Linked DNA regions of Homo sapiens. The protein of the gene in region 1 interacts with the protein of each later gene in a pairwise test. Each region holds a gene or a part of one and is shown in the gene's direction. Other genes may lie near its edges.

Region 1 (3,500 bases):
CTCAGATAACTCTAATCAAATTGTAATGTAGAAAACTGGCTTGTCAAGACAGTTTAGAGATCTGTTCTTTAGCATCTGTTGAGTATAATTTAAAAAAAAAATCCAAGTTGGAAATGACCTGTAAACCCATCTAATTAGGCACAATAAGATATTAGGTTATTTTTAATTATCCAAACTTTATTAAAGTCCTTTAATTAAGCCTGTTTTATTGCTGCTAAAATGTGGACACTAGCTAGGTTAACAGGCAATGAAAAATGTTCATTTCCTGCTTTTGCATTTTCTTAGAGTAGCTTTAAATATATGCCACAGTGTTCTTGATAACATCTATTCCCTCCTGTCTCATCATCAGAGACCAAAACTGTTAGAATATTTGTATTTCGGTTGGTAAAAAGTAATGCGGTTTTTGCCAATAAAAGTAATGGGAAAAACTGCAATTACTTTTGCACCAGCATAATATCTTGATGTTTTCCATCATCTTCACCTGTTCATATTGCAGCCTAACGTCTCTGAATAGCACGTTTTTATTAATCCCTAACCCCCTCACAATTCATGTATCGCAAGTATAGTGTCTTAGTAATTTGTGTAGACTCACTATGGAGTTGGATGACATAAGGGGCATCCAGTAGGATTTGCCTCCCTCCGTGTACACTCATCCAGGACTGCACTGTGGAAGATGGAGTACAAGACAGGGTCTTTACCTGCACGGTTGTGGTCCAGTAGGGAAGCCGAGTATGGGTACTTGAAAGATAATTCCACCCTCTTCATTTGTCTGTTTCAAAAACCTTGGGTGAGAGTCTGTTAAGGACCAGGCAGGAGATATGTAAGCATGTGTGTGCTGTCATCGACGTGAGCATGTGTGTGCTGTCATCGACGTGCGTGTGAACAGAGGTAAGCCTTTCTTAACCTGGTTACCGGTGTTAGTCACTTTGCAGAGTTCCTTCACTTTCTATTTTCCCTTCCTCCCTCCAATTCCTCCTTGGAAGAATCGGCTACACTTGCCCCTTCTTCCTTGCTCCCACTTGGGTGGCTTACCCCTGCCAAGTCACAGCTGGCAGTGGGAGGCATTGCCCACCCCAGTGGCTATGCTAGAAAAGAGGTTCATTATTGACTCCTGTCACCTTCTCAGTCCCTAGGTCTAGGCAGCTTCTGCCATCACTGGCATCCCCACCTGCCATCTCTTGGCCTCATCTCAGCAGCACTTTGCATTGTAGGCCCTCCTTGTTCTCCCAACAGACCCTTCCTTGGCATCTGTGATTCTGCTGGCTTCTGGGTTTTCCCTTCCCGCGATCACTGTGGCTCCTGCTGCTGACACTGCCTCCTTTCTGCGCTTCCCTGCCTAGGGATGTCTGTGTTCCTTGGGCTCAGCCTGGGCCCTCTTCTCCTTCTGCACTCTCAAAGGAGGTGTCATCCCTCCCAGTGGCCTGACTTCCATCCAGGTCTCCAGCCCAGATCTCACATTTTCATTTCTGACTTTCCACCCCACTGTGACTCAGAGATGGAAGACTCGTGCCCCTGCCCCAGACTCCTCTTCCCCAGGGTCTCCAGTGCAGGGAGAGGAAGCGTTGTCTGCCCTCTTGTCCACAAAAGAAAAGGAAGTTGTGTTATTGACAGCTCCTCCTCCCTCAATCCCTAAATGTAGTTCATTAGCAAATCCTCTGCATTCTGCTCCCAAATGGCCCTCACTCTTGCCTTTTCTATTCTCTGCCCATAGCCAAGACCATGGGTCAAGCCACCATCACCTCTTGCCTGGATTGCTGTTGCTGCCTCAGCCTCCTCATCAGCCTCTCCGTCTCAACCTTCAACCCTTTCCAATTCATTCTCCCGCTATAGACCCAGTGTTCTTTCTAAAACACAAATTTGATATCTGTGTGTGCCCTTCTGCTTAAAATCATCCAATGGCTCCTCGTGGCTTGTAGGATAAAAAGTCTAAACTCCTCAACTTGGTTCCCAAGGCCCTGTGGTGCAGGTGGACATACATTACTGGCTTCATCTCCTGCTGTTCTTTCTCCTGCTGCAGCCTAGCTGACCTTTAGTTCTGTGTTCTTTTTGCCTCCTCTGTGTGGAACAGTCTCCAGCTGTTCCCCTGGAGAACTCCTGCTCCTTCGGGTCCTGCCTTGGTGTTCCTGAGTCTGACATAGGTCAGTGCGGATCTGCTGCCATGACTTATGGTATTTCTGCAGACCTTGTCCTCCTTAAGTGCCGCTTAGCTTGTCTCTATTCCCCATGAGATTACAGGCGATGAGGGCTGGGACCAAGTCTCATGTTGTTTCCATTCTGTCTCCTTCACAGCTCTTGGTGCCTGGCACCTAGTAGGTGCTCAGTAAATATTTGGTGAATGGACAAAAGAACTTTTCACAGTCTGTGTTCAGTCACTGAATAAACGTTCTCATTCCAGTTCTGCTCCCTAGCTCTTCCCTCTGTTTTTCTTTTTTGTAAGAGTCCTAGCTTTTGAGCTAGCCACTCAACCTGTTTTAAGATCTTTTCTTAAAATAGCACCTTAAAAAAAGAAAACCTAACTTGTCCATCAGTCTTAAGAATAGCACTCTGTAAAGTATCACGAATGGAATTTTTATAGTCAATGCTCCTAAAGTATAGGTGCGATAAACATGGTAGATGAACAAACATGGAAACATGAGATTTTACCCTTTAGAGGACCAGATGTTCTTTGCCTTTTTTAAAATTTACATTTTAAGGCTGGTTGTGATGGCTCATACCTGTATCCCAGCACTTTGGGGGGCCGAGGAAGGCAGATCACCTGAGGTCAGGAGTTCGAGACCAGCCTGACCAACATGGTGAAACCCCGTCTCTACTAAAATTAGAAAAATTAGCCGGTCATGGTGGCGGGCACCTATAATCCCAGCTACTCGGGAGTCTGAGGCAGGAGAATCACTCGAACCTGGGAGGTGAGGTTGCAGTGAGCCAAGATTGCGCCATTGCACTCCAGCCTGGGCAACAAGAGCGAAACTCTATTAAAAAAAATCAGTTATTAATATTAGTAATGTTATACAGCAGATAAAGGGAAATTTATTTGGAAACTGATTATAAAGTAGTTTAGGTCTAGGAGCAGTGGCTCACGCCTGTAATCTCAGCACTTTGGGAGGTCGAGGTGGAAGGATCGCTTGAGCCCAGGAGGCAGAGACTGCCAGATCACACCACTGCACTCCAGGTTGGGCGACAGAGCCAGACCCTGTCTCAAAAAAAAAAGTAGTTTAAAAAAAAGATTTTTTTTTTTGAGACGACATGTTGCTCTGTTACCCAGGCTGGAGTGCAGTGACACAATCTCAGTTCAGTGCACCCTCCACCTCCTGGGTTCAAGTGATTCTTCTGTTAGCCTCCCGAGTGGCTGGGATTACAGGTATGCAGTCCACCACTCTTGACTAATTTTTGTATTTTTAATAGAGACATGGTTTCGCCATGTTGGCCAGGCTGGTCTTGAACTCCTGACCTCAGGTGATCTGCCTGCCTGGACCTCCCAAAGTGCTGGGATTATAGGTGTCAGC
Region 2 (2,633 bases), on another chromosome or scaffold:
CCCTCCTGCCCGCAGAGGCAACTGCCCTCCCCTTGCTGTGCGTCTTCTAGTGTGTGTGCGTGGGAAAGGTGCAGCACTTTCTGTGTACGCCTTCCGCGTATGGAAGTGGAGTTCTGTTTCAAGCCTCACTGACCTGCCACCGGCAGAACTCTCCTTTAGAACCCCTTCCTGTTGCCAAGTGCTCATCTGGGCTGTTGCTTTGTTTTCCGGGGGCCACCCGCATCCCCCCCGTCTCCCTGCTGCCACGCACAGCTAGTGGCTCCTGGAGACCTCGGGAGGAATTCCTTGTGCTAAACCCAGAGAGGAATTGCTGGGTCAGGCATCAGCCTCTGCACCGTTCACCCTGCCGGGCTCAGCTGCTCCTCAGCAGACAACCCACCACCAGCCATGTGGCCCCATCTCTCCCACCATGCACTAGGCTTTCTCCCACGCTTGCCAGTTTCACAGCACGAGCTGGCCGTGTGGAGCTTGGACTCGCCCTTCTCTGACTGTGGATTTGAGCTGTTGGAGTTTCTTCTCCCTTGAGTTGCCTGTTCAAATCCTTTGCCCATTTTTCTATTGTGGTTTTTGTATTTTTCTTTTTCTTCTTTTTTTTTTGAGATGGAGTCTCGCGCCATCGCCCAGGCTGGAGTGCAGTGGCGTGATCTCGGCTCACTGCAACCTTCGCCTCCTGGGTTCAAGCAATTCTCCTGCCTCAGCCTCCCGAGTAGCTGGGACTACAGGCACGTGCCACCATGCCTGGCTAATTTTTGGTATTTTTAGTAGAGACGGGGTTTCACCGCGTTAGCCAGGATGGTCTGGATCTCCTTGACCTTGTGATCCGCCCGCCTCGGCCTCCCAAAGTGCTGGGATTACAGGCGTGAGCCACCGCGCCCGGCCTGATTGTCTTTTTCTTAAGTTGCAGGAAGTCCACATATATTTTAGCTATTTAGCCTTTGTAACCTTTAAACACTGGGGATGCCTTCATGCTTTCTGGTGAGGGTCTGTTAACTTGGCGCGTGGAGTCCTTCACTGCACGGAAGAGCAGAGGTTTCCCTGTTCACCTGCTCTATGGTCTGTGCTTTGTGAAAACACCTTTCCCTGGCCCTGGGTCCTGCCTTCACGTTCCTGCCTTTTCTTCTATCAGCCTTCTAGTTTTGCTTTTCAGAATGGAATGTTTCCGTTTTGGAGTCAGGTAGGATCACACATGTCCAGTTTCTCTTTCTGTTCATGACGTATATGATGTGACATATTTTTCCACCAGATATTATGGGATAGAAGATGAAAAGCACACACTCCCAGGTCCACTTGACCTGTTGCAGTGGAACCTCCGGGCATGGGCCCAGGAGTCTGTATTTTTAGTAAAAGCCAGTGGAATCCCGTGGTCTTCAAGCTCTCCCCCCACCACCCCCATGTGCAGAAATGCCTGGGCACCCTTGGGGGGCTGCCGGCCAGCGTGGGTGAATGGCGCCCACCAGACGGAGCAGGGCCTGCTACTCTCCTGGGCCACCCCTCCTGCTGGACCTCGGGCCTGCCTCCCTGCCTTCCCTGCCCTTGGCACCTTGAGAGGAGAATTTGAGTACTAGAATTTGCATCTGGGAGTGTCCACCACGGGATCTTCCAGAAGCCCAGGGGTTCGGGCCCCACTCCTGGCATGAAGAAATAGCTTGGGCTGGTGTCAGGCCGACCCAGGTCCTGGCTGTGTGGCCTCGGGCGCGTCACTTAACCTCTCTGAGTGGCAGTCACACCATCCTGCGTGGGATTCAGACTTGAGCCTGTCCCAGGGCCCCTAGCGGGGTGGGCCTCCGGGGAGGGAGGGAGGGAGGGAGGGCGGGCGCTGGGGCGCGGCTCAACCCTTCAGTGCCCCGCAGGCGGCTGTGCGTGGCGAGCAGTGGACGCCCATCGAGCCCAAGCCCCGGGAGCGGCCGCAGATCGGAGGCACCATCAAGCAGCCGCCCAGCAACCCCCCGCCGCGGCCCCCGGCCGAGGCCCGCAAGAAGCCCAGCGAGGAGGAGGCTGCGGTGGCGGCGGGGGGACCCCCGGGAGGTCCCCAGGTCAACCCCATCCCGGTGACCGACGAGGTCGTGTGACCTCGCCCCGGACCTGCCCTCCCGCCAGGTGCACCCACCTGCAATAAATGCAGCGAAGCCGGGAGCGCGTGAGCCTCTGCCTGGGGCCGGTGGGCGGGGCTGGGGTAGCGATGGTTCCCGAGGCCTGGGCAGGCACCCCGTTTCCTGCCAGCCGGGCCGCATTCCAGTTTCATTAACATCAGCATCGCCTTCCTTCTCAGCAGCACACGAAATCCCGGGTACCGTATATTCCACGAAATATAGTACCTGGATTCCAGGTGTGTGCCTCCCTAGAAAGGTCCTCCCGGGCCTGGAGGAGGCAGCAGAGTCCTCCCTTGACAGCTCCTGCAGGCCCTGCAGGCCCTCCACACCTAACGCCTCCCTAAGGGGCTTGGATTCCAGAGGAGGCCGCTGGCGTTAAGTGAAAAGGGAACAGGGTCGGAGCCACGTGGTGAGCCTCTACCCTGCGCCTCTTTTCCGTAGAAGCTGGGGTGAAGCTGGTGGCGGATGTGGCCTTGTTTGCCCCCACACTGATGCTGGGGGGCCCCCCAGCTGCCCAGGACGCTCAGGCCAAGTTGCAGGGGC
Region 3 (3,047 bases), on another chromosome or scaffold:
TGTTATTTTTCTAGTTGCCAGAGATGGTTGCACTGAAATAGAACAGGGAGTTGCATACAAAGCCTAAATGTGTATTGGATTTCGAAAATACTAGGTTGGTGCAATTGGTTTTGTACCAACCTAACATGTCTTTAGGAAAGTACCATCATGTGGAAGGAAACAACAGGTGTTAAAAGGTTCAAAGGAATGAGAAATAGGAAGTTACTAGAACCTAACTGATGTTGACCTTAGAGGTAAGATTATTCAGGTATATTAGTGGACCTCCAGTCCAATGGTATAGCAAATTCCAGGGATCTCAGGTGCATGCAATTTTACTTTCTAAAGTAAACACTTAGAAAATAGATTATAACCCAGACGTTTTGGATTATACTGAGACAAATATGTAAATAAGTTTTAGCAAGTCTGAACATGTACCAGCGAGATCTTCAGGTTAACTAAGAAAAGCCCAGAAACTTCATTATTTACTGTGCTTTGTATGGCATAACTGGTAACAAGGCAGTAAAATGATACATATTTGAACTGGACCATAGTAATTAAATGATTTATCAATATCATTTGCAAGATAATTGTCAGGTTGAGTTAATAGTAAGTGGCAGCTTCCCAGAAATTTGGGTTATTTGGCCTAAGCTGTGCCCTGGGATTACCTCTTCATCTTCCTTGACTTTTAAGTTCAAATTTGGAGGTTATGTGAAGTGATTGAAATAAATCTTTCAGGCTGAGGAAGTCGGTAATTTCAAGAATATAGTGAAAACAAGGTTGTAATCTAAACATGAGAAGCTTAAGTTTAGGAAATGGTTAGAATATAAATTGCTAAAGCCATCATGATTTTGGCCACAGATGAAAATATGAACACTGGAAATGAGCGCCATTTAAATGAGATGCTGTATGTAAGCCAGGGGTCAGCAAAGTTCAGCCTGTGACCTGGTGTGTGTGGGGGTGTGTGTGTGTGTGTGTGTGTGTGTGTGTGTGTCCGTGTCCCTGAGTTAAGAATGGTTTTTAGGCTTGTATAGGATTAAAAAAAAAAAAAACCCACAGAAAAATGTAGGCAGCCCAGCATAAGATACCGCCTTTCACAGAAATGTTTGCTGACCCCGGAACTGTCACTCTCGGGTTACAAGAGTTTGTTTCTTTGAAACAGTCTGGCTCTGTCACCCAGGCTGGAGTGCAGTGGCATGATCTCAGGTCACTGCAGCCTCCACCTCCCGGGTTCAAGCAATTCTGCCTCAGCCTCCTGAGTAGCTGGGATTACAGGTGTGCACCACCACAGACAGCTAATTTTACAGGTGTACACCACCACACCCAAGAATCACTTGAACCCGGGAGGTGGGGGTTGCAGTGAGCCAAGATCATAGCACTGTACTCCAGTCTGGGTGACACACTGTCTGAAAAATAAAAGTTTAGTTCTAGGTACAAATTAAGTGGTCTACCCAACAGGAAGCTGTGAAATTAGAAGTAATTTTAAAGCATACTTTACACCTCTATATAATCAAAGTAAGGGCAAGATAAAACTTGTTAGTAAAACATGTTTTATTATTTTTTAGATAGGTAGCCTGCAACATAAAATATATTTTGAAAGCTGTTAAGGGGTGTATAATCTGTTAAAAAATACCATGATTAGTATTTCACATTTAGTGACTCAGATCCCTTTGTGTAAGTCCTTTGCGTTGTGCAAAGAGGTTTTTCTATGAGATGAGAATTATGAACACTTCATATAGGTAAATTCCATAGGTTGAGCTGGGGCAGAAATTAATGGCTCCTGGAGATTGCATCTTTTTTTTTTTTTTTTTGAGCTTAGAATTCCCATTTGGACAGAATTTAGCTTTTGTGCTGTTGATTACTTCTGTACTAAACTGGTAGCCAATTGTTCACTTCTAAATGGAAGGGAAAAAGTTACCCACACAAGTTAGAAAATGATTTACCGAATTATTTTTTTGAGTTAGTATGTATATACTGTTTTAAATCAGTAATGTTTGTTCCTTTTGCTGCCCATTTGGGAGTATGTGGCAATTCCTAGTGCTCTTGTATGACATTACTCTTCTTGAGACTTGTATATGCAAGAAAGTATATATAAAAGATGCCTGGTGGTAACTTTGTATCTGAGTTCTGATTCATTATGGACTTTTAGAAATCTATTTAGATAATTGGTTCATACTAGGTGCTCAATTACTCTGACCTTGTGTGGCTTAATCCTTAAATAGTTGCTTTAGGTGTTACTGGGTGGAAGCATGGAAAGTGAAGGGCTAATATTAAGGATTTTTATGTATTACTGAGTAGGGAAAGTGGGAAGTAGCTTATCTTTGGACAGTTGTATTACTTTGCACTAATCACCTTGTTTGCAGTTGTAGCTGATTCAGTTCTAGATTTTAGGACCAAAAAGATCTCTAATTTAAAGAAACAGTTTTTATATACCTAGAATGAAGATTCTGTTTAAAGCGGTTTTGGTTAACTTGGTTCTTGACATTTGCCTAAAATTTTGTTGGATTGGGACTAAAATGTTCTATTAGCCAATGAATAACGTCCAAGTAAATTTTTGTTTTATTTTGGGAACTTTGTATATTGAATTCTTTGTTTTACACGTAACCCACAAAGAAATGTTGCTTCATATGGCAGCTGCACTCAGAGTACTAAGATAAGCATGTGTTTAGACATTTTCTAGACATTTTCAGAGTGCTCCGACAGCTGGGGTTCTTTTGGAAAGAAATGGACTGAAAGTGGGTGGGTTTTGTATTTTTCCCATTACATGACGACATGTTTAGGCCTTCATGATTGGTGTGAACTAAACACATATCTTTGTTTAGAGATAAGACAATTGGTTTGTGTACTTACCCTGAAAATTCATAATTTCGTGTTTTTTGTTTGTTTGTTTTTGAGATGAGTCTCACTCTGTTGCCCAGGCTGGAGTGCAGTGGCGCGATCTCGGTTTACTGCAACCTCTGCCTCCCGGGTTCAAGTAATTCTCCTGACTCAACCTCCTGAGTAGCTAGAATTATAGGCGCCCGCCACCACGCCCGGCTAATTTTTTGTATTTTTAGTAGAGACGGGGATTC
Region 4 (3,500 bases), on another chromosome or scaffold:
TTTTTTTTAAATTAATAGTAATGTTATGTTTGAAAAACTGGTTTGAAATAAACTTTAAAACCTTTAGAAGTTTAACCACTTAAGACTTTTCCAGTCTGCCTCGTTATAGCAAAACCAAGGAAAATTTCTTTTCTAAGCTCCTATAGAGAACTGGCAATGAAACTAAAATTTAATTGTGTCTCCAGGTCTCTTATTTTTCTGCAAATAATAAATTATGTACTATGATCATTTTCAGATAAATCATCATGCATGTTCCAAAATGATTGGCCAAGTTTTATTTTTAAGAAACATTAATCGTGAGTGGAAAGAAACATGCTATGGCCTTTTGGGAGACAGTAGTGTCTTATTACAGTGGAAAAGTGGTAGCGTGGGCATCAGAAAAACATGGGGAAGGTTCAGCTCACCCATGTAGCTTTGTAACTTTAGATCTTAGTTATACATAAAATAAGGGGATTAAGTTAGAGGATCTTAGTTTCCTTCCAGAATTAAAATTTAGTGATTCAGAGATGTCTAGGATTTTAAACTTTCACTACAAGATGAATTTGACAGATCTTCCTGTAGGGAACTGTAGTATGTAGCACTTCTACTTTGGTATTTGGTAGGATGAGACTTGATCATGCAGTTAATTTGAGCTGAGTCTCTGAATGCACATGTGAAGGCCTTGGTCTTTTTAAAGTGTGGGGGCAGTATGTATTGTGTGATGGCATGTGGATTGTTATACCTAGTTTGGTTTCTTTAAAATTGAAACATACAGTTGCCATTTCTACCCTAGGTACATGAAGTGTAATACTCCTCTAAGCCTATTGGGATACTGCAAGATGAAAAGTGATTGCTTCACAGTTTAGACATTGGGAGGAAAATCAAGAGCTGTCTTTTAGAGGATGTAGCAGGCAGTATAACTGTAAAAGGGACACTGCATCTCTGTGTAAAATAATTTGAAATTATAGAAAATATTAGTACTTAGTAATAATTATATTTAGCTACCTAATTGAAATGCGTTTCTGGTGCACTTTTTGTGTCATTATCTCCATTACTTACTTAAACTTAACATTATGTAATCTGGATTTAGAAGTTGATGTATATACATGGTCTGTATTCTTTTAGATAAACATAAGGGATTCCTCTTTTGTCTGGCATAATGGCTTTTCAATATTTCAACTTTAAAAATCATTGTTTCTGTTGTATTGAAAATATTTTGGGGAGGAACTACATTTTGGGTGTTTATAGTAAAAAAAATAGTAATTACATCTGCAACATTTGGGTGATGTGAAACTAGATCTTTTTTTTATTTGCCACACACTCCTAAGGTTACTAATGTTGCATCACAACATTTTTGTCTACTGATACCCATACTAACTCTCTTTGTTGCACTATTTTCCTGAAAGAACCAACTTCTTCTTAAAACAGGGAAGAAGACATGAATCCAAAGATAAATCCTCTAAGAAACATAAGTCTGAGGAACATAATGACAAAGAACATTCTTCTGATAAAGGAAGAGAGCGACTAAATTCATCTGAAAATGGTGAGGACAGGCACAAACGCAAAGAAAGAAAGTCATCAAGAGGCAGAAGTCACTCAAGATCTAGGTCTCGTGAAAGGTAAGTCATGTTGTATTATAATGTAGTACCTTCTAACAAGTTACATAAAGTTTCTCATTGACCCAGCAACACCCAAAAAAATCATAATTAGGGAGTTTTTCTTGTTCGTTTGTTTGGGTTTGTGGTTTTGTTTGTTTTTTGCCTTTGGGCTTTGCTTTCTCATCATGCAAAAATGGTTTCCAAGAATGGGGTGTAAGGGATGACTAAATCTCAAGTGCCTAGATTTCTTTTCCCTTTTTTTTTTTTGACACGGAGTCTTGCTGTGTTGCCCAGGCTGGAGTGCAGTGGCATGATCTCGGCTCACTGCAACCTCTGCCTCCTGGGTTCAAGTGATTCTCCTTTCTCAGCCTCCCAAGTAGCTGGGATTACAGGCATGTGCTACCATGCCTGGCTAGTTTTTGTATTTTTAGTAGAGATGAGGTTTCGCCATGTTGGCCAGGCTGGTCTCGAACTCCTGACCTCAGGTGATCCACCTACCTCGGCCTCCCAAAGTGCTGGGATTACAGGTGTGAGCCACCGTGCCCAGCCTAGATTTTCTTTTTTGAGATGGTCTCTCTGTTGCCCTAACTAGAGTGCAGTGGTGTGCTCTCAGCACACTGCAGCCTCTTGTCCTCCAGGGCTCAAGTGATCTGACCTCAAGCCTCCCAAGCAGCTGAGACCACAGACATGCGCCACCACACCCAGCTAATCTCTTAGTATTTTTTTGTAGAGACGGGTTTTGGCCATGTTGTGCAGGCTATTCACGAATCCCTGGGCTCAAGCAGTGTGACGGCCTTGGCCTCCTGAAGTGCTGGGATTTCAGGAGTGAGTCACTCTGCCCAGCTGAGATTTTTAACCACTTAATCTGTCTGGCACTGAAAAAATCATATTGTTAAACTGTGTGGTTTAAGCTGATAAACAGTCCTTTTGCATCATCGATGGTGATGTTGGTGTTTGCTGCTAAACTGCAATCTAGATTTTTTTTAATGTTGGAGTATAGATAAAAAGATTTTTGAGAAACTGGATCACAGCTCAAATTTGTGAATGGTTTTTGGTGGGGTTTTTTTTGGAGAATTCTGTGGGTTGTGTGTGGTATCAGACTCAAAAATTTTTAGTAGATAAACTAAAGTATTAAGATTTGTAACTACTGTGGGAAGAGTATTAAACGGAAGCTTAAATTTGGGTAGGATGCATTGAACGCTTTTGACATGTTAATAGGTTTACTATGTTCTAGGACAAATTATCAAACAAAATGAAGGGTTCGTTTTCAGTTAGTATTTCCTTTGAAAATCTCGCTTATTTCTGTAAATAATATAGTGCAGTTACTTGCTTGTCTTTATTGCGTTACTACAAGTAACTAATTCATGATGTGTATAAATGAAACAACACAACTTTTAAGTAATTACAAATTTGTGCACTTTAATTTCAGACGCCATCGTAGTAGAAGCAGGGAGCGGAAGAAGTCTCGATCCAGGAGTAGGGAGCGGAAGAAATCGAGATCCAGAAGCAGAGAGAGGAAGAAATCGAGATCCAGAAGCAGGGAAAGAAAACGGCGGATCAGGTCTCGTTCCCGCTCAAGATCAAGACACAGGCATAGGACTAGAAGCAGGAGTAGGACAAGGAGTAGGAGTCGGTAGGTGACCATCATCCTGAATAAAATTTAATAGGACCCTCAGAGAGTCTGTTTATCTTCCTCAGTAAGAGAGTATTAAAATTGTGAGTCACAATTCTATTTATAGATTATGGTAAAATTATTTTAGTCATTACCTAACGTATGAAGAACACACCTAACCACTTGAATAGCATTCACAGGTATTCTCGTGATTGATAAATCTCTTGCGAAGTGCAGGTATGAATAGGCCTATTAAAATGCAGTTGTTGGCTAGGTGTCGTGGTTTACACCTGTAATCACAACGAGGCGAG

The links. Proteins that work in one complex are often made in the same cells at the same time.
Region 2: the proteins of UPF2 (region 1) and CYBA interact in a two-hybrid assay, tested with the Homo sapiens proteins (one large-scale study listed by BioGRID).
Region 3: the proteins of UPF2 (region 1) and SERBP1 interact in a two-hybrid assay, tested with the Homo sapiens proteins (one large-scale study listed by BioGRID).
Region 4: the proteins of UPF2 (region 1) and RSRC2 interact in a two-hybrid assay, tested with the Homo sapiens proteins (one large-scale study listed by BioGRID).

Annotation. Positions count from the first base shown.
Region 1 is NC_000010.11:11,924,310-11,927,809, reverse strand, and holds part of UPF2 (regulator of nonsense transcripts 2), read left to right. Parts: intron 1-3,500. UniProt on the Homo sapiens protein: Involved in nonsense-mediated decay (NMD) of mRNAs containing premature stop codons by associating with the nuclear exon junction complex (EJC).
Region 2 is NC_000016.10:88,642,789-88,645,421, reverse strand, and holds the end of CYBA (cytochrome b-245 light chain), read left to right. Parts: coding exon of another isoform or gene 1-256; exon of another isoform or gene 257-1,850; coding exon 1,851-2,069; 3' UTR 2,070-2,133; downstream 2,134-2,633. UniProt on the Homo sapiens protein: Subunit of NADPH oxidase complexes that is required for the NADPH oxidase activity that generates, in various cell types, superoxide from molecular oxygen utilizing NADPH as an electron donor.
Region 3 is NC_000001.11:67,407,310-67,410,356, reverse strand, and holds the end of SERBP1 (SERPINE1 mRNA-binding protein 1), read left to right. Parts: 3' UTR 1-2,547; downstream 2,548-3,047. UniProt on the Homo sapiens protein: Ribosome-binding protein that promotes ribosome hibernation, a process during which ribosomes are stabilized in an inactive state and preserved from proteasomal degradation.
Region 4 is NC_000012.12:122,516,937-122,520,436, reverse strand, and holds part of RSRC2 (arginine/serine-rich coiled-coil protein 2), read left to right. Parts: intron 1-1,385; coding exon of another isoform or gene 1,386-1,407; coding exon 1,408-1,598; intron 1,599-3,006; coding exon 3,007-3,210; intron 3,211-3,500.